2 separate regions of the Homo sapiens genome follow, and region 1 is linked to region 2. Evidence: fine-mapped expression QTL. A gene starts in region 2. The other region holds a variant in brackets. All regions are shown on one strand. Distances are between the middles of the regions.

Region 1 (9,876 bases), 470 kb before region 2:
CAGCGGCCTGGTGAGCCTGTCCCAGTGTGAAACCGACCAGGGCCTCCTGTGCTCAGAACTTTCCACTGGCTCCCACCTCAGAGACAAGCCCGATTTTCCATAGGGATCCATGAAGCCTCCTCACCGCCTCACACCGGCCCGCCACCCCTCCCCCTCCTCCGCCACACCAGCCAGGAGGCATCGAGCCTTCTTCCCCTGGCCCCCTCCTCCTGGAAGTCTCCCCCAGAGGGCCACGACTCTTGTTCCCCACCCCTCAGGGCTTTACTCAGCTGTCACCTTCTCTGGAAGCCTCTCTGGGCCACGGACTTCAACATGCACGCCCAGCCCGGCATCCTCTCCCTCTGCACATGGGCTGGGCCACATTCACACTGACGCTGGTGTCTGCTCCCTGGAAGGTGAGGGAGGGCAAGAGGGGCAGCCTCCCTGCTCCATCCCCAGCACTTGGGAGGCAGGCGGCATGGGGGGGTGGTGGGGGGGTACAGTGGCCTGGGCGGGGCGGTGGCAGGACAAAGCCCAGTGCTCTCTGGATTGGGTTTTGTCTTGTTCAACACTCACGTCAGCCAATTATTGGCAACAAGTTGTCAGTTCTGGAAGATCGAAGCTAGGTGGGTGTGCTCCCGAAAGGATGCCTGCATGGTTTGGAAATGGAGCACCTGACTTGGAGCCCCAGTGCTCGGCCAAAGCCACCAGGTGGAAGTTAACCAAAAACATGGAGAGTCCCTAGTGCAGGTTCCAAGAAAAAATTCCACTGAGAGGAGCAGACCCCTGCCTGGTTTCCACGTGACAACAGCTCAGGAGGAGGCCAAGGCTCCAGGTGGCCGGGGTCCCTCATGTTCAGCGCATGGAGCCTTGGGCCCCACATGCACCAGCGGAGTTGCTGGAGACTCAGGCCCAGTTGTGGGGTCACAGGAGAGGGCACTGGATCCCAGACGGCAGGGCCTGCAACACTGAGTTCACACACCCAGGACTCGAGATTGGGGCCAGGGAGAGCGGCAGCGCCTGCAAGGGGCCGCCTCCTGGCTCACTGGTTCCCTTCCCCGCATCTCCCCTGGGAAGCAAGATAAATGGGGGAAGTTGCTACCAAATACTCACGGGCTCATCAGGTAGAAGAAGCAAGACATGAGGAAGAAAGCAGCTGGGGCTAAGCTCAGAGGAGGAGAAATGACAAGGGAAGGGGACTGGGTTCAAGGTGGTGTTTCCTAACCCCCCAAAAATGGCATCGAATAGGCCATGGGGTGGGGTGGAGAGAGTGCCACAGGAGGTGGGAGGGAGCTGGACAGCCCCTCCACCCTGAGGGAAGGCCCTCAGAGCCGGTGACAGTGCTGGCCCAAATCCGCTGGATCTGCCCACGCCGCCGCCCTGGAGCAAGCCGGCCTCTCTGTGCCTGCTTTGCTCCAGGGCTGTCTGCCTCCCTCCACAAGGCAGAGGAAGCGAGCGGGGGCCTGGGTGGACACCCCTGAGTGCCTGGGCCTGCAGAGAGGGCCGGATGGCAGTGTCCATATGAGGGCACTGGGGCAGAGGGGCTGACCCTGGCCTGGGCCCCCTGCTTGTCCCTGGGCATCGAGAGGGGTTGCTGCAGAGAGTGACGACTCGAATACAGCACAAGTCACCACTTTATTTCTAAGAGAAAACCTGCATTTTCACACACATGGACTCAGGGGTTTCGAACACACGGTTTGTACATCTGCCCGCTTAGGTTGCTCTGCAAAATGAGGAAGAAGCCGCATCGTGCTCACAAATAATACACATTCCACATAGCAGCACAGCCTTTTGGGCATCTTTGGAGTTTTAGACGGAGCTTCTGGAGTCACAGAGCCATTCCCAACCCAGGCCTGGCATGGTCCCTGCCCTTGCATCAGAGTGGCCTGGGAGGTACACACATCTTTACAGGCCCAGAAACGCCAAAGGCTGGGAGGCTCTTGTTCTCTGGTGAATCCGGATTCAAGACAGGCTTCGCAAAAGCAGCTCTTGGGCCGAGCTCCAGGCCTAGCCCTGAGGACCCCTGGCCTCCTGGCGCCCCTCCAGAGTCTCACGCTTCTCCAGGCACTGGGGGGTGGGGAAGGGTGGCCTCAGGGACATAAGGACCAGGGAGCGTGTGATGGAGAGATTTCTCACTGTTCTTCTGAGGGGGTGCAGCCTCTCTGAAGGTCACTGTGGAGGGCGCACCAAGGCCTGGAGAGCCTTGGGGAGAGATCAGGCCCCACAGACCTGGAAGCTCTGCCCCAGTATCCCCCAGCCTGGGCGGCCGGGCTGTGCTCCCTGAGGACCTTACTGGCAGCACCCTGCCCTGCTGACCCTGGAAGCAGCTGATTGAGGGGCCTGGGAAGACCCCATGGCCTCCAGCAGGTCTCAGAATGACTCCTGTAGTGGCTAGGACTAGGGCACTGGCCGCACCCTCAGGCCCAGGTGGGAAGTGTGGGCTGGGGGTAAACCCAGCAACTCAGGACTAGCAGCAGCCATCAGGGGCTGTGGTGCAGGAGCAGCCACCAGGGCAGCACCAGGAGGCAAAGGCCCTGAGGGAGATGAGCTGGTGCCGTCCCCTCCCAATTCCGCTCAGATGGGCACCCTCGCCTTCCTGGGACATAAACCCCTGGGGCTCATGTGGTGGGGAGCAATTTGGCAGCAGACGGACTAATATCAACGTCTCCAGTGACCCAGGGCCCAGTCCCTGCCCTGAAGGCTGCTCAGCCCCTCCAGCCCCCGTCCCGCCTCGCAACGCCTCCTCTGCGCCAGGGCCAGGGCCTCTCCCCCTAGTGGAGCGACTGTCCACTGGCTTTCAAAGGCGGCACTCCTCAGCTGTCACAGCCGCAGTGACAGCCTTGGGGAGGCTGAGGGGGCTCTGTCAACCAGGGGACACTAGTGGGGACAGGTGTGTAGCTCCTGGCTGCAGGGCCTCCTCCACCCCCCCTCCCCCCCGCCCATTCAGGGCTATAAATACTCACGGACGCAAATGGTAAATGCTCCCAGACATTTATCATAAATTACAGGTGGATGATTGTGAGTCTTCAGGCCATGAGGCCTCTTGGGGACTATTTCAGTTCTTTAAAAAAAAGAAGACACGAAGCTGATGGGGCAGGAGGGCCGTTCAGCCTGGCTTCTGACTGGAAGCTCGCTGGGTGCAGCAGACTGGCCTGGGAGATGCCAGGGTGCTGGGTGGGTTGGAGGCTGGGCCAGGGAGCACCGTGACCAGTGGTGGTCACAGAGGACGTGAACGATGACGTGGGCCCAGGTCGGAAGCAGCCAGAGCCAGATGAAGGGCACCTGGCCCCTTCCGCGAGGTTGGAGCATTATGCCAGGAACAGGTGTTCCCTGTACACTTTTTTAAGTGAGTAAAGAGAACAGTGATTTTCAAACAATGGTGTGTCGGGTGGGGCGGCTCTTCCATGCACCTGTCCCCTGCCTCTGCATGAGCCCAGCAGAAAATCCTAGCTGGAAGGCCGTGGGGCTTGGGGCCAGCACTGTGCAAAGGATGGGTGAGCACGCTGTCCCTCGGAGCGTCCTCAGTGGTGCAGCCAAGAGCCAGGAAGGGCACAGCCTCTTTCCTCCTCCCTGATGGAAGCCAGAGACCTACCACAAACAAAGACCTGCTGCCTCCGCCCCTCCTCCCTCCGCCTCGCCTCTGCAACCGGTCTTTCCTCCAAGCAAACCTTTTCCGCGCCCTTCACCATTCACTCTGCAAATGACCAGGGCCTCCAAATCCCGTCCAGCCCCAGGTATGACTGGATCCGTGTCAGCGAGAGAGATGGGGGCATTCCAGTTGTCCTGCATGCCATTTAAACCTTGCCCTTCCCTCTCTTCTGGAAACTCTGAGCAAACACCAGGCACTAGGACAACTTCTAATTTAATATTATAATAATAAAAGCCACGGTGGCACAGAACCATGAACTGCACTTTAAATTCCTAACTGAACTCCTGCCGGGGCTGTTGTCAGGAAAAATATGCAGAATCAATGGCTGCAGCTGCCAAAACAAATGGAGTATGCCCACCTCTGCCACGGCATCGCTGCAGACCTGCCCTGCCCGGGCCGTGCCCGACCTGGGCATCGCTCGGAGGAGCTGGTCACCACATAGAAGGTAAGATTAAAATAATAACACCGACAAGCAAGCACTAATGAGGAAAAACTCCTGGAAGGAAGCAAATTTAATTTTCTTTTCCTCTTTGACACCTTTCTTCCCTGTCCAAAGGGAGGTTCTTAATTGAAGTCTGTGAGGGGAGCGCTCCATCTCTTTATCACCAAGTGGCCTCAGTACACAGAACGCTCGCTTTTTATTGTAGATTATACCTTCCTTTTCCCCCTTGGCTCTGGAAAGGATAAGTGATTACAATTTTGTTATCTTCTAAATTAAAAAGAAGGTGAAGTTGACTGGGCTGGAGCCATCTGCACAGCAGTTTGACAACTGGGGCGACAGCATAATACTGGGCAATTTTTTGCACAATTCAAAAGCTTTTTTTCTCTTTTTTGCCAAGGAATCAGTTTAACAAACATCCTACTCTTGCTGAAAATAATTTCTTTTCCCAACTCTTCTAGGAATAAAACACTTTTAATGTATTTGTCAGGAATCGACACTTCATTTAATAGGATTTAAAAAGTGACAATTTAAAGAGCAATTGAGAAGAGTCCCACATCCATCATGGCTTGTGCTTCTAACTAAAATCAAAGGAATGAAAGCAGAAAAAGCACTGAGAAAATGGTAAAACGGGTGTGTGTGTGTGTGTGTGTGTGTGTGTGTGTGTGTGTGTGTGTGTGTGAGAGGGAGAGACGGTGGGGGCGGGGGGTGGTTCATAGCTGCTTCAAGTCCAAAGTGCTCACAACGGCTCCTGTGAGACTGCCCTGCTGGGTGCTGGCTGCATGGACACAGCTGCTGCCCAGCACACACCCTACCTGCCCTACACTCTCAGTCCACCCCAAATGACCCTCCCCAGAGCTGCCAGAAGGTGACTTTGAAGGCTTTTTTCCCCAAAAGCTCCAATGAAGTTGCCTTTCTACTCTCAAAAAAAAAAAAAAAAAAAAAAAAAAAAAAAAAAAATAATAATAATAATAATAATAATAATAATGAAAAGTGAAGGGTGGGGGTGCTGGCCACCTCCCATTTCTTTGCCTGGGTGGTGGTGACCATGGCGCCCTTGTGTCCTTTCCATTGGTTACTGAGGACCATTGCCCTCATGGGCCCAGGCCACAGGCACCCACCTGTCAGCCTCACCTGCCACCTCTCTCCATGTTGGCTTGTTGCCCCTGGGGCTGGCCTGGGCATGGGGGAGCTTATCTCCCCGACCAGGGGCTTGGCCATGTCTCCTTCACAACCCCCGCTCCCC[A/G]CGGACTGAGCCTCCACTCTCTGCTGGGCTGAGGGCTCTGTGGTGCCCAGGAGCCCTCCCAGCCACGTGCCAGCCCATCCCATCATCAGCACTTGCTTTTAGCTTCAAGTGTTTAGGTCGCTTTGGTCCTGGTGGCCCAGGGGAGAAGTGCTCTGTAGGACCAGCCAGGCTCTGGGGAACTCCAGGCTGCCCGGGGACTTTCTGGTAGCCACTCACTTGTCCCTGTTCCCTGGAGATGAGGTCCTTGCCCTGGTGTGTGGTGTGACACACCTTGACTTGGCCTCCAGGCCCAGCTGGACACACGAAAAGAGTTCCTGCCCCAGTCAGAAGGCCCCTCAGGGAAGGGCAGTACCCCTCCAGCCTGGGAAAGGAGGTGAACCCGTGTCCTTTTGGAGTCCAGGGCAGGCTCCCAGCAAAGCGAGGGGGAGGCGAGCTGGCAGCGCGGCTGTGAGGGAATGAGACTTTGCCATCAGTCCTCACCAATGACATCTACTGTTAGTGCCACCCCATCGTCCCCATACTTCTCTTTATCTGATGATAAGGGGCATCTTTAAAGTGCTAGAAGACAGGAGGGACAGAGATCTGGAAGGGCATGCCCCGAAGGAAAGAACCGCCACAGGCCAGGGAGCTGCAGATGTGGGTCTAGGGCCGAGGCTTTGCAGCGTATTCCTTTTCAGATGCGAGGCCGAGCTGCCAAGCTGCTATCTCGTTCCCGGAGCACAGGAGGGCTCTGCGTGCTCTGTGGGCAGGGGACTGGAGGGTTGCAGATGCAGGGCCGGGCAGCTCCTCCAGCACCCCCACCAGCCCACCCTCTCTTCCCAAGGTCAGCAGCATGCTGCTTCAGGCCAAGGGCCTCTGGGCAGGTGATGCCCATGTTTAAAAAGAAGCATGTGAATGGCTCATTTCAAAATGTTTGAACTCTGCCCTTGATATGACTGTCTGGCTCCTTTGTCCCCATCTGGGTAGAAAACACACTGGGGAAGGAAGTGCTGTGTGTGCAGGAGCTCTCTGGCTAATTGGCAACCCGGGGCTGGGGGCTGACAGAGTCAGCAACCATGCTGGAGGGCCCCCCACTGTGAGCGGGCGCCCACCGTTCCTTACAGGAGCCTCCTCCCATTATGAAATGCCTGGCATCCCAGGAGTGTTCCACTCTCCCACACAACAGGGAAGTGGCAGAGATCAGAGCTGAGGGGATAGGAAGCAGCTCAGCCCTGCAGCTGGAGCTACCGGGGAGGATGGAGAGCTGCAGACCCTGGCTTCTCCTCAGGAACGTGTCCACCCTGCCCCGGTAGCCCTCTGATGTCTGCCATCCTGTGTTCACACGGAAAGACAGTCTTCCAATTTAATCACGCAGTTTGATGCTACCCTACTATTTCCATATGGACAAATCACTCAAAATCAAGTTAAACTAGGAGGAAGCGGCTGACCCGTTGGCTCTTTCTAGAGCGCAGCTGATATGTCTTTGACACACCTGAAAGGAAACTCCCACGCCCTCACCCTCCTTTGATCAGGGTTGCAGGTTGGCGCCGAAGACCCAAGGACTGCAGTGCTGCTCACGTGCCATGCCGTCCTGGGGAGACTCCCAGGCTGATGCTGATGGCGACAGAGGCCGGAGCTCTGGGGACAGCGGAGGGGCAGGCAATGTTGTGCGCAGTTACCCAGGGCAGGCAGCACTGGAATGGAAATCACTAAGTAGGAGACGGAGCCACATCAAGCCACCATCGTCAAATGAGGTCCTTTTGATGAGGATTAGGAGAAAAGCTTCTTGGAACTGCTATTTTTCAGTCCCCAGTTGAGTACTGTGGTGTGGGGGAAGCACGGAGTCCCAGTTCTGCGTTCCTGACGCTGATGGGCAGGTGGCTGCCTCTCCAATGCTTCGATAAACACAACTGGAGGGGCAGCTAAGCCACGGCAGTCCCCGGCAGGTTTGGCCACGCCAGAACTCGGTATATGTTTATCTACATGGACTTCGGAACAGTGAATTAGCAGCGGGCATAGTAACTATTTCCTTGTCAGCCTCCCAAGCTTAAAGGCTGGATCCATGTCAGGAATGACAGGTGAGTAACTCAGCCACACGAGTGACTATTAACTCCAGTGTCCACAGGTTGATTTGCTTGTGTGCATTTGTGGCACTTCCTCTGTGGCCCAAGTGCCAGGATGAGCTGCATCCGTGTCTCATTTAGGAGACATGCACGATGGGTCTCTGTCCCCGCAAGCTGAACCGTTCAAAACCAAGGAAGGAAAATTATAGCATCAAAAGGGATTAAAACTAGTGATTTGCTGTTTGAGCATTTCAAATAGATCCGGAACACCTATGATTCACTGAGTGGAGAATAACTAAAACAAATAAAAAATCATTTAGTTGCCAGGGCAATGTATTCCAGCAGAATGAACACTCTATGGAGGCCCATTCCTAAAGGGTGCCTCCAGGTAGCAAAGGCCCAATGGCTTTCTCCTCCGCCTGAGTGTTTGCGTGCCATTTTTGTATTCCAACACAGGCCTGTCTATGACTTCCTCCTGTTCCCTGCGCCTGGGCTAGATTAGAGAGGTAGGGTGTTAATGGTGGACTTGATGAAGATTGAAGACCCATTTTCTCCCCCTTGAGACCTGCCTGATTTGGATAAATTGAGAAGAACAAAGCAGCCCCTTTCTGTCCTTGGGAGAAAACCTGTTCGGTGTCTGCTTTTGCAGCTAGGTCGGCTCCTCCCTGGAAAGGGGCAGAGGTGGGGGCAGTCAACAGAGACCCCTGCTCAGGGAGGAGACCGTTTCCTGCCGTTGCCCGAGCCCACCAAGTCACACCAGGCCCGCTGCCTCCTTTATTGGTGCTGCCGGTTGGGGGAGCGTGAGTTGGAGCCTGGGCTGGAGGGTAGTGAGCTGCCACTAGGCGCCCGCAGCGCATGGGAGTCGAGCTGCTGACCGGCCAGGCTGGTGTCCCCTGTCCCCGATTCCTCACTATTTTCCTCCTTCTGGCTGCTCTGCTGCTCTGGACACTCAAAGTGGACACAGTGGAACACCTGGGAGAGAAAAGGAAAAGACCCCATGAGTGAAGGGTCAGCATGCGGCCCTGGAGTTGCCGCAAGTTGGGATACTGCCCTGCCCAGCTTTGGGGGCCACCACGAGGGAGTTAGAGGAGGTCCTTCCCACTGCCCACGCCTGCCCCGGCGCAGACACCTGATGGCAACTAGCATGCTGTAAACACATTTTGATCAGTCAAGAGGAAAGGAAATGAGCCAGTGGCCCAAAAGTTAGAGACACCATGACACGGATTCCCACAAAATCTTCACACTGGATTACTCCGTTTTTGCCAACCTTTGTCTAATGGGCTCTTTTTTCTTTTTTAATTAATTTTTGTATTTGGCAGTTGGGTTAAAAGTCAACAGGAGTTGACTGGTGGTGGTGGTGGTGGTGGTTCGATTCTGTGAGGTTGTGGAAAGCAGGTCCACAGATAACGTCCACCATCTGTGTGGCATCTGCGTGGGTTGTCTCTGGGTATTCTGGTTTTCTCCCGCGTCCCAAAGCTGTGCACTTGAGGTTCATTGGTGTGTCTGCAGGGTCCCAGTCTGAGTGCATGTGAATGTGTGTGAGCGTGCCCTGCAATGGCATGGTGTCCTGTCCTGAGCTGGTTCCTGATGCATAGTTCTCCTGGCCCTGCAATGGTTGAGCACAGACCCTGCTAAGCAGCCGTGCTGGGGAGTGGACTTCAACCTCATGTGGCTCCAGCCAGCCTGGAACAAACGCCCCCAATGTGTAGAAGCCAGCCACCTGGCCGACAGTCACCCTCTAGGAGCTAAGAAGAGTTTGCATACCTGACAGCAGGTCAGCCTGGAAGCACCATGAACTCTGTGCCAACACCGTGCCAGCACTGTGCAGACAGGGCACAGCACCGAGCTCAGCGCCCCGCAAGCAAGGGTAAGCCATGGCCCTGACCTGGAGAGTAGACAACGTGCTTCGGGGGGTCCTGACATGCATGTGTGAGCTGTGGGGTGCAGGAGAGAAGGGCGGGGTGGGGGCTGTCGTTGCCACTGCACGAGCATGTGTGCACATACATACACACGGCCTTCTACCGTAGAATCAAGTTCACAGAGACAAATGTAGTATCAACTGCAGAATTATATTGAAAATATAAATTCCACGCTTACCTCCCTGCATCACTGTTTTTTCCATATTCCCACTTCAATTCATTTATTGACCACTGTTTTAAATTTCACATTTTCTCATATGAAGACTGAGACCGTGTCTTCCTGGTGTGTCCACTCTGTTTTGGGAGCTGCCATTTTCTCTTAGAGGGAGCTGATTTCTCTCCTTATAGGGCAGGGGCTCAGGCACGGTCCTCGCCTCCTGCAGACCCCTCACTGCCTCACGGCTGAAGCTGTCCCCACTTAGCCTATGTCTCCCTCCTTTTCCTTTCTTTCCTTCCTTCCTTTTTTATAAAATCTCCTTCTGTGGGTCCATCTGCAGGGCTTACCAGTCAACAACTGGAGGGGCTAGGTCCTAGGGGAAGGCCTTATGTGGAGATCTGAACACTATTTGGGCCATCAGCTCTGCCCTGGGCTAGGCCAGGGG
Region 2 (9,876 bases):
TTAACCTCCTGAGTAGCTGGGATTACAGGTGTGCACCACCCCACCCAGCTAATTTTTATATTTTTAGTAGAGATAGGGTTTCACCATGTTGGCCAGGCTAGTCTCAAACTCCTGACCTCAAGTGATCCACCCACCTCAGCCTCCCAAAGTGCTGGAGTTACAGGCATGAGCCACCACACCTGGCCACCTCCAGGTCTACCCAATGCATTTTCAAATTTTAGAACTACTATGGTTTGCATGTGTCCTCCATGTGTTAGAGGAGACATGATTCCCCAATGCAACAGCAGTGAGTGGTGGGATCTTTAGTGATTAGGCCATGAAGACTCTTTTCTCATGAATGAATTAATGCCAGTAGAGTGGGAATAGGTTGACATGATCAGTTCAGCCCCCTTCCCTCTCTCTCTCACCCATGTGATGCCTTCTGCCATGTTATGACACAGCAAGAAGGCCCTCACCAGATACTGGCACATTGATCTGGGACTTCCTAGCCTCCAGAACTATCAGGAAATAAATTTCTGTTCTTTATAAATTAACCAGACTGTTCTTTATAAATTAAACTTAGATCAGTTCTTGTCTTAGTTTGTTTTGTGCTGCCATTATGAAACATAAAATATGAAATAGCAGCACAAAACAAAGACAAGAACTGATCCAAGTTTAAATACTGATTTAAACGTCCAAAAGTTCCATTCACCATCTTTTCCAGTTCTCACTCTCCATTTTTCTGGCATTGGGGCCTCTCCTACTATCTCTACATCTATAACTACTACTAACAATAACAGCAACAGCTGCCATTTATTATATTAAGCATCTATAAGACAGGCATTGTGTTAATCACTGTGCACATAGTACCTTTGTGTTAATCACTGTGCACATGTATAATCTCCACAATTCTTTAATTCAGATAAGAAGCCTAGGCTTAGAGAAGTTAAATAACTTGCCAAAGGTCAGCCAACCAATAAACAGCATAACAGAGATTTGACCTGCCATCTTCCTAACTCCAAAGTCCACTAAGTTAACTACTATACTAACATGCCTCCTAGAAGGTTGCTACTCCCACAGCCTCAGCGGACATCTATATTACAATTGTCCCTAACCATCTCATAAACTCTGAAGTAGCATTTCCAGTTACTTAGTGGATCTCTCTTTTTAAACTCCCCACAGAAACCTCAGAATTAACACTGCCATTATTTCTTCTCTCCACTTCAAACCTGTTCCTCTTCCTGTGATTTCTAACTTAATGTCATCATAAGCAAACAGTTGCTCAAACTAGACATATTATCTTTGACTTCTCACTCTCCCTTACCTCTAGCTGGTCATAAATGTAGAGATTTTAACATCTAAAAATGTCTCCAAAATCTATCCATTCCCATTGTCCAACATTTCTCACCTACACTCTAGTCTCCCTGCCTCTCTACTCTAATGCAATCTGCACACGAACTGTCAACTTTCTGATTATTCTACCTTCTATGGCTCTCCACTGCCAATGGATGGGAGGAGTCTAGACTTTTTAGGATGAAGTGGAAGACCCCCTCATAATTTGGCTCCAAAAACAGCTTCCTGCCTCATCACTTCCCCCATGCAATAAGAAGTGATTAGGCCCTCATGAATGGATGAATGCCATTATAGCAGGAATGGGTTCATTATCTCAGGAATGGGTTCTTGAGATGAGTTCAGCCCTCTCCCCTCTCTTGCCCACAAGAAACAACTCAAGATATTTCCAAAAGCGCTATTTAATTTTAATATTCAGCAACTTTGCTTATGCTGGCCCCTGGAATGCTCTCTTCCACCTCTACATGTGGCGAAATTTTATTTAACCCTCAGAGCTAAGCTCCATCCCCTTCTTCTCAACATGTTCCCTATCAGTTTTTTCTCCAGCCAAAGCACTCTACTCCCCCAGCACATTATTCATTCCAAAAGTGATTAATTTGTCACAGCACATAATGGTTAGTGGTTTATCTCTTCTGATGAACACTTAGTATGCTGAGCATATACTGTGTCTTAACTTCTTTGTCTTCCCAGCACCCAACGAAGTGTCTCGCCATAGCCAGCACCCAGTAAGTATCTGCTGAGTTGTTAAATAATGCAACATTTGCAGTTGTAACTTTACACATCTTGGTTAGCAATTCAACTTCAGGTTTACATACCACTCAAAAGAATTTTCACATAACAGAAGATGTTATAAATAAAGACCAAGGGTTCAATATTCAGCAGCAGGGTCTTTAATTATTCTGAAATCTCTTTGGTCAGTATTTTTAAGCATCGTTCATCAGAAAGACTCCTTTCCCAACTAACATTTGTATATTTTACAGGATCAGCAGTAAAGACAAACCTCAGAGAGATAATCCCAAGCAAAACTATGTCACTGAGTGTGACTGGATGACTATTGGTACATCATTTCAGTAAATTTCCAATACAATGGCCCAAGTACATCAGGTAGATTTTAGATAATGAGACATGCACCACTGACTACCTAAAATACATGCACATTAGTGAGGCATCGATTCCAATTAGTAATTGAAATCAAAAGTATATTAACAACCTGATATTGGTTCAAGCGTAATATCCTTTACTTTCAAGTAAGGATAACACTTATTCTTGTCAAAGACTGTACTCTGATTAATACAACCTCTATCCCACCTTACAAGAAGGCTGTATCTTGTTAACAGTGGGATGCTGATAAGCCCGCCTTAATCCTTAACACTTTGCCTTCCCAACCTGCTAAGCCATCTCTCTCCAGTATTCCCCTATAAGAGACGTTCCGCTCCAGTTACCAGACATAAAAGTCGTCTTGGTATATCCTCCAACAACCAAATTCACATTATTATTTTCTCAGCTCCTGGTTTATTTCCTAACAAATTTTAACTTCTTTCAGAGACCAAGTCAAATCTTGCCTCTTTCAAAGAGTTCCCTAACTCAGCCTACACATCCTATCTTTTCTGATTTTCTACCACATTTATAGTCCTCAAACAGCACTGGTTACCTGCTACTTAACTTGGTTTTATAATTATTTTATACATCTCCTAGCTAGACTACTGCTCTCAAAGGGAAAAAAAAGACAGGTCTTCTATGTCATTTTTCACTCCATAATCCTCCTCCCACACCTATCATGATACTGGGCAGAGGGAGGCACATGTATTAAGTACTTGATGGACTGAACTCAATGCTTTCTATACATAGATACACCACTTGAGCATAGTGTGCTATATAACAAATATCCATTGCATGCCTACTCTGTGGCAAGCACATTTTTCCTATGTGTTAGACATAGGGCAAGGAGGAAAACACAGATGACTCCTGTCCTAAAAGCTATTACAGTGGAGGGAGGAAGACACTTTGAATTCCGAGTAATCTAATAAGTGTTACAAAGCAAGGTTATTACTGGTTCCAAGAGGTAACATACTTTACAGATTCTCAGTTATGAAACAGAATCATAGAATTTTAGACCTAAATGAGAACCTTGAACTTATTTTCCTCTATCCTCTTACACAAAACATTAGATTTCAGTACAGCCTATCTTTTCACTGGTTCTACAAATTGCCTTAATCAACAGAAAGAAAAGACTGGCTTCTTCCCTGTCTCCAATATTCCTCGCTCCCAAGTATGGTAACCACAACCCCTATACATCTACCCATGATAGAGTCCAGAGCACTGAGAAGACAGCACAGGGCTGAGGATGAGCTACACCTTTACATGCTGGGTTCTCCCATCATCAACACTTTCCGCCCACACAGTGAACAGAATCCGTATTTTCTGCCCAGAAAATAGCAGCCTGTACTGCCTTTAGGAAAAACAAACAAAACATGCTTCCATACTTCCTTGGATCTACTAATGACAAAAGCACAACACGGTTCTGGGAAATATAGCAAGATAACTAAGTCTATGAGGAAGTAAGAAATGAGGATGCCTATCAGCACCTTGGTCTCAAAATCTGTAACAACAATGTACTAAAACGCCAAGGAAACACATGCACATACATGTGAAGTTAGAAACTCTAGGCAACAGGTTGGCTGCCCCGGATCTATACTGACAGGTCGCCCTCCCAAGGTCGTGGGTGTGTCTGATGCCGCACGCAGGCACTGATTCACAACTCTCTCCATAACAACCAGCTCCTACTCAGAGGCTGGCCAGGGCAGGGGAGATGAGGGCCCCAGCAGTCCCAAACTTTCCAAACCCCCACCCCGGGGTCCCGGGTTTCGCCTCCTCAGTCCCAGGCAACGTCGTCTCAGACAGGATACGAGACTGCTAGGGAACCTGGGCTGCCCCTGATTCGAACTCCTCTCTTTGGGAGGCTGGTAGAGCCACCCCGAATCCCCGAAACGTCTACTTCCCACTACACCTTCGTGGACTGCGAACGGGACGGCTACCGCTCTCCCAGAGCACCCGGGCCCAAGAAATGACCCTCGTCAGGCCCCGTCCCAGCTCCTCCCCCGCCCCCGGAAAAAGCGGCGGAGGGGCGGGGGGCGGTGCGCGCGGATACGGCGGGGGCGCGCGTCCCCGCGCCGCAGGTGCGGCCAGGCCCCACCTCCCCTGCAAGGACCCGGCTACTCACCCCAGCGATGCTCCTCTGAGACCAAGCTGCGACACAGACGCCTCTTCCGCCCGCTCCGCACCCCTCTCTGCGCCACCGCCCCCTTGGCCGCTTCCGTGGCCGCCGTCCTCGCCGCCGCCCCGGCTGCTGCGGCGCGCGTCCGCTTTCACGCACTCCGCCGTGGCCGCGCACGCGCCACTGCGCGCTGGCGTCACTTAGCAACCGATCGACAGCGGGCTGCTGGGTCCGGCGATGCAGGCCCAGAAAGTCGCCTAAGGCAGCTTCCGCGGCTTTTTCGCATCGGCCCGACCCTCTGCCCCTCCAGAACAGGGGGCCCCAGGGTGTGGCTGCCCTGCCGGCACCTGGCTCCGGGTAAGTCGAGTCACCACACGTCACTGTATGGCGTCACCGGCGCACGTCACTACGGATGAGAAGGTCCTGGGCGCCTGTGGAGTGACCTCGTCCAGACCGCCGCAGACCCGATCGGCAAGTTCTTGGAGGTGCAGGAAGGTTCTCCAAGGAGTAGGACCAGAAAGGGATGAGAGCGCGAGCGCGGTTAATGTCGAGGCTGCTAAGTGATGCTCGTTAATTTCGCAGCAGGGTGTGACTGGCCCAGCCTTGACTCTCAGTTTCCTCTCTCAGTAAATGGGCATAATAATACCGGTCCAGCCTACGCTGGAGAATTGTGAGGTGAAAATGAAATAAGGTATGCAAAGGTACTTTGTAAGTATAAAGCCCATTTGACTTGGTGGCTCAAGCCTGTAATCCCAGCACTTTGGGAGGCCGAGGTGGGCGGATCGCTTGAGCTCAGGAGTTCGACACCAGCCTGGGTAACATAGTGAAACCCCGTCTCTACAAAAAAGACAAAAACTAAATGGGCATGTTGGCGCGCGCCTGTAGTCACAAATGCTCGGGGGGCTGAGGTGGGAGGATCGCTTGAACCTGGGGAGTTCAAGATTGCAGTGAACCGTGATCGCGCCGCTGCACTCCAGCCTCTGCAGTGAGAGCAAGACACTGTCTCAAAAAAATGTATTTATCTATCTACATAGATAAGAGTCCTAGAAATCCGGGTGCAGGTCTGACTGTAGCTGGTGTAGGAAAGTCAGTTATCCCCGACGCTGGAGCAAGCTAGGGGACCGCCCTTGCAGTTGTTGGAGGAGACAAATTGGGAAGGACTTAATTCCGGGCAAAGGAAGCTTCATGAGTAAAAGTAGAAAGTGAAAATGGTCAGGAAAAGCAAGGCTTGGGGCAGGGAGACCCATTTTTAGGCCATTGCAGTACTCCAGACAAGTGATAAGAACATTAAACAAGGCATTGGCAGTGGGAATAGAGGAGGGGATAGATGTTAGCGCCATTAAGGTGGTAGAATTCACAGCACTGAGTGCGGATAAATGAGTAGGCCAGGTTTCTAGCATGAGTGCTGAGGTAGACAGTGGTAACATTTAGCAAGATGGCAAGCTACATGAGTCTTGATTATCCACAAGTGTCTAAGTTACTATTATAGATAGTGATGGTGACATTTCTTAGGAGGATGACCAGATATGTGGAGTATGATGATGAGTTCAAATATGGATATGTTTGTTAGGGAAACATTTACTCTCCATTCACAATGTCTTTCTTCCATATGGAATGATATCCATTAGTGTAATACTCTCCTGGTTTCTCTTATACCTGTCTGCAACTCACTCTTGCCTAGAGGAGTGACTTCCTGATTGGTGAACTTAAATGGGAGAAACTGGACATGTGGCATCTATCCCATTCTTTTTCTCTTAAAAGATAACTATCTTCAGGGAACTGTCCTGGTGTTCTTTTCCGTTTCTTCTGGAGCAGGGCCTGTGGGTAGGGACAAGGGTGCCTAGTCCAGGGCTACAAAGAGAGTATATGTATTTAATTCCAGAGTTTGGCATTAGGAAGCTGTCTGTCCACAGATAATATTTAATACCAGCTTTGTCAGCTGTGTTACACAGAATAATGATCCCCCCCAACCAAAAAAAAAAGGATGACCACACCCTAATACTCAGAACCCATGAATATGTTATATTATGTGGCAAAAGGGACTTTGCAGATATGATTAAATGATGTATCTAGGGAGATTATCCTGGATTGTCTGACTGGGCTGGAGGCAGGAGGGTCAGAGTCAGAGAAGGAGATGTGATGATGGAAGCAGAGGTCAGACAGAGATTTGAAGATGCTATACTGTTGGCTTTGAAGATGGACCCAAGAAACGCAAGCAAATTGTAGATGCGGGAGAAGGCAAGGAAATGGATTCTTCTCTAGCACCCTAAGAACACAGCCCTGCCAACACCTTGATTTTAGGACTTCTGACTTCTAGAACTGCGAGATAAGAAACTTGTATGTTTTAAGGTACCAAGTTTGTGCTAACTTGTTACAACAGCAATAGGAAACTGATACAGTCAGTAATAAAGATAATAGTTGGTTTCCTGCAGCTTTCTCCATTACCTGGAAAAGAAGGGTACAATTCAGTAGGTCCCCTCAGAGACTATAGCAATATGACTGTGACCTGATGGAACCTCCACATCTAGAGAAAAATGTCCAATAAACACTCAAACTGTACAGGTCTATGAATGAGGAAAGAGGTTGAGTTAAAATAGATTTGGAAGAAATAAATTAATAATTGGTAATTTAAGCCCGAGGCATGGATGAGATCAATCAGGGAGAAAATACAGAAGACATAATAAGGAGAGGCAAGGATAGGGCCCCTGGAGAGCACTAACTTTAAAAGGAGGTGCAGATGATCAGAAGCCCAAAAAGAAGTCTGAGGAAGAATGGCCAGAGAGAGAAAAGGAGAACTAGGTGAGCCTAATGCCTCTGAAGCCAAGCAAGCAAGATGGAGAGGGGTCAACAGAGTCAGAGACCACAAAAAGGCCAAGTATATCAAGAACTGGAAAGCATTCACTGGATTTAGCAACAGAAAAGTGATTGGTAACCAACAATAGCAAACTTCAGTGGGATAGTGGAGATAGATACCAAATCACTGAGATCTGAAAGGCAGATCAATATAGTGGATTGGCCTCTAGACTAGTTTGATGGGAGTTTTGAGATTCTAGTCTTGATTCTGGCCATTAACTAGCTAGATAACTTTGAACAAATCCCTCAACTACTCCAGGCTTTGGTTTTCGCATCTGGCAAAGGATGAGATCAAGCTGAGTCTATGATTTTCTCATTAATTCCTAGATAATCCCCCCAGTTTTATTTTTTTATTTTTTGTCATATCTGATTCAATACTTTTATTTATTTTTATTTTTTATTTTTGAGACAGCATCTTGCTCTGTTGCCCAGTGTGGAGTGCAGTGGTACAATCTTGGCTCACTGCAGCCTCAACCCCCGGGCTCAATCACCCCAATTTCATATCAGACTCACTTGCTTATAACAGCACACTTCAAATCCTTCTCAGACCATTTTCCAACCACTAAGAATCAGTATATTTCATGCCAGCTTCTGTCCTAGATACTATGGCTATAACACAGTTTTCAAGGAACTCACAATTTGGAGAGAGAGAGAGAAATACTAAGTATGTAACTAGCTGTCATAGTTCTTTAAAAAAAAAAAAAGAAAAAAAAGTAAGGCCAGGCGCGGTGGCTTATGCCTGTAATCCTAGCACTTTGGGAGGCCGAGGCGGGTAGATCACCTGAGGTCAAGAGTTTGAGATCAGCCTGACCAATATGATGAAAACCCGTCTCTACTGAAAATACAAAAATTAGCCGGGCATGGTGGCATATGCCATCATCCCAGCTACTCAGGAGGCTGAGACAGGAGAATCACTTGAATCCGGGAGGCAGAGGTTGTGTAGAGCCAAGATCTCGCCATTGGACTCCAGCCTGGGCAACAAGAGCAAAACTCTGTCTCAAAAAAAAAATTAAAATAAGTAAATAAATAAAAATAAAAAATAATAAGATAGACCTGATTGTGGTGGCTCATGCCCCGTAATCCCAGTGCTTTGGAAGGCCAAAATGGGAAGATCACCTGAGGCCAGGAGTTTGAGACCAGCCTGGGCAATATAGCCAGACACCCATCTCTACAAAAATTTTCTAAAAATTAGCCAGGTGTGGTGGTGCGCACCTGCAGTTCTAACTACTTGGGAGGCTGAGGCAAGAGGATTGGGTGAGCCCAGGAGTTTGAGGTTACAGTGAGCTATTACCAGATTACAGTGAGCTATGACTGTGCCAGTGCACTTCAGCCTGGGCAACAGAGCAAGACCCTAAAAGCTAGATATAAATATATTGTAAGTATAATACAATATACTATAACAGAATCTGTATGAAGTGAAATGAGGGATATATAAAGTGATACAGATAAGGGCGCAGTTAGCTCTATCTAATGGAAGTCAAGAGTGTTGTACTTACCTACACTGTTAAGTAAACACAGTATGCCTCAAAAATGGACACAAATATATTAAGGCATTTCCATGGAGGTAAAAAAAGAACAGGAGAATTGTGCTAAACCAGCGTTGTCACCTAACATTCCTTCTAGGTAGTTTTGTTGTGATCTAAATGAATATTTATATATAACTGTTTCTAAACTAAAATTGGTTAGTTGTTAAAATGGACACAAATAAAAGTTAAATGCAAGAATAATTTATATTTTTCCAGTAGATTCAAGAGGAAATATTTTTTGTCACTAATGCCATGCTTTAATACATTTGCTTGTCTAATCCTCATGTATTATCTTACTTAATTTTGTAAACATTAGCTTATTGTATAGATCACTGACAAAGTATCTGTTTTAGCAGATAGGGACAAAGTTTAAATAATTTGGCCAAGGTCATAGTAGACCAAGATTTGGACCCAGCACAAGCATCCTCTTTCCAGGAAACCTTCCCTCAGGCCCTTAGTTGGTTTAAGTGCCCTCTCTCTGTACTATTAGCATATGCACACACATTCATTTTAGCGTTGACTTTAATAATAAGGATGTTTACCATGTACCAGATACATAGTACTTGCACCTATGTTATCTATGTTTAAGTGTTTTGTAGGCATTAGTTCATTTAAGCCTCATAACTGCCCTTTGAAGTAGGTGATATTATTCACAATATTTTATAAAACAGGAAGCCAAGGCATAGAAAGTTAAGTAATTACTCAAGGTACAATTAATAAGTGATAAAGCTAGGATTCGAATCCATGCTTTTAACCCCCCAGGCTTCATACTATGTACCCTTTCCCTTATACTGAGGAATTCTAGAAGGCATAGTTGACAGGTTGTTGTGTGTGATATCACTCTGTGTTCCTCATATGAACACAAGAGAATTTTCTCTCTGAGCCACAAGTCATGAAATATTTGGCTACCCTTGAGTAACTGATGTGTTTTCTCTTTATAGGCAATGTGAATTA

The links. PIP is the estimated chance that this variant, and not a neighbour inherited with it, causes the effect.
Region 1: its variant is fine-mapped to the expression of BTBD9 in lung (TOPMed, PIP above 0.99).

Annotation. Positions count from the first base shown.
Region 1 is chr6:38,166,856-38,176,731 of GRCh38, forward strand. It overlaps BTBD9 (BTB domain containing 9), which reads right to left. Exons shown (of 11, transcript NM_001099272.2): 11 at 1,596-8,327. The coding sequence ends at 8,130. It overlaps LOC124901315 (a long non-coding RNA gene), which reads left to right and starts at 8,323. Exons shown (of 2, transcript XR_007059571.1): 1 at 8,323-9,222. RefSeq lists enhancers at 1,335-1,965, 1,966-2,597, 2,598-3,229. The variant A/G (reference allele first, on the strand shown) is at 5,314.
Region 2 is chr6:38,635,251-38,645,126 of GRCh38, forward strand. It overlaps BTBD9 (BTB domain containing 9), which reads right to left and starts at 4,679. Exons shown (of 11, transcript NM_001099272.2): 1 at 4,550-4,679. LOC105375044 (a long non-coding RNA gene) reads left to right here and starts at 5,145. Exons shown (of 3, transcript XR_926767.4): 1 at 5,145-5,234. RefSeq lists a silencer at 4,342-4,541 and enhancers at 4,641-5,141, 4,942-5,021.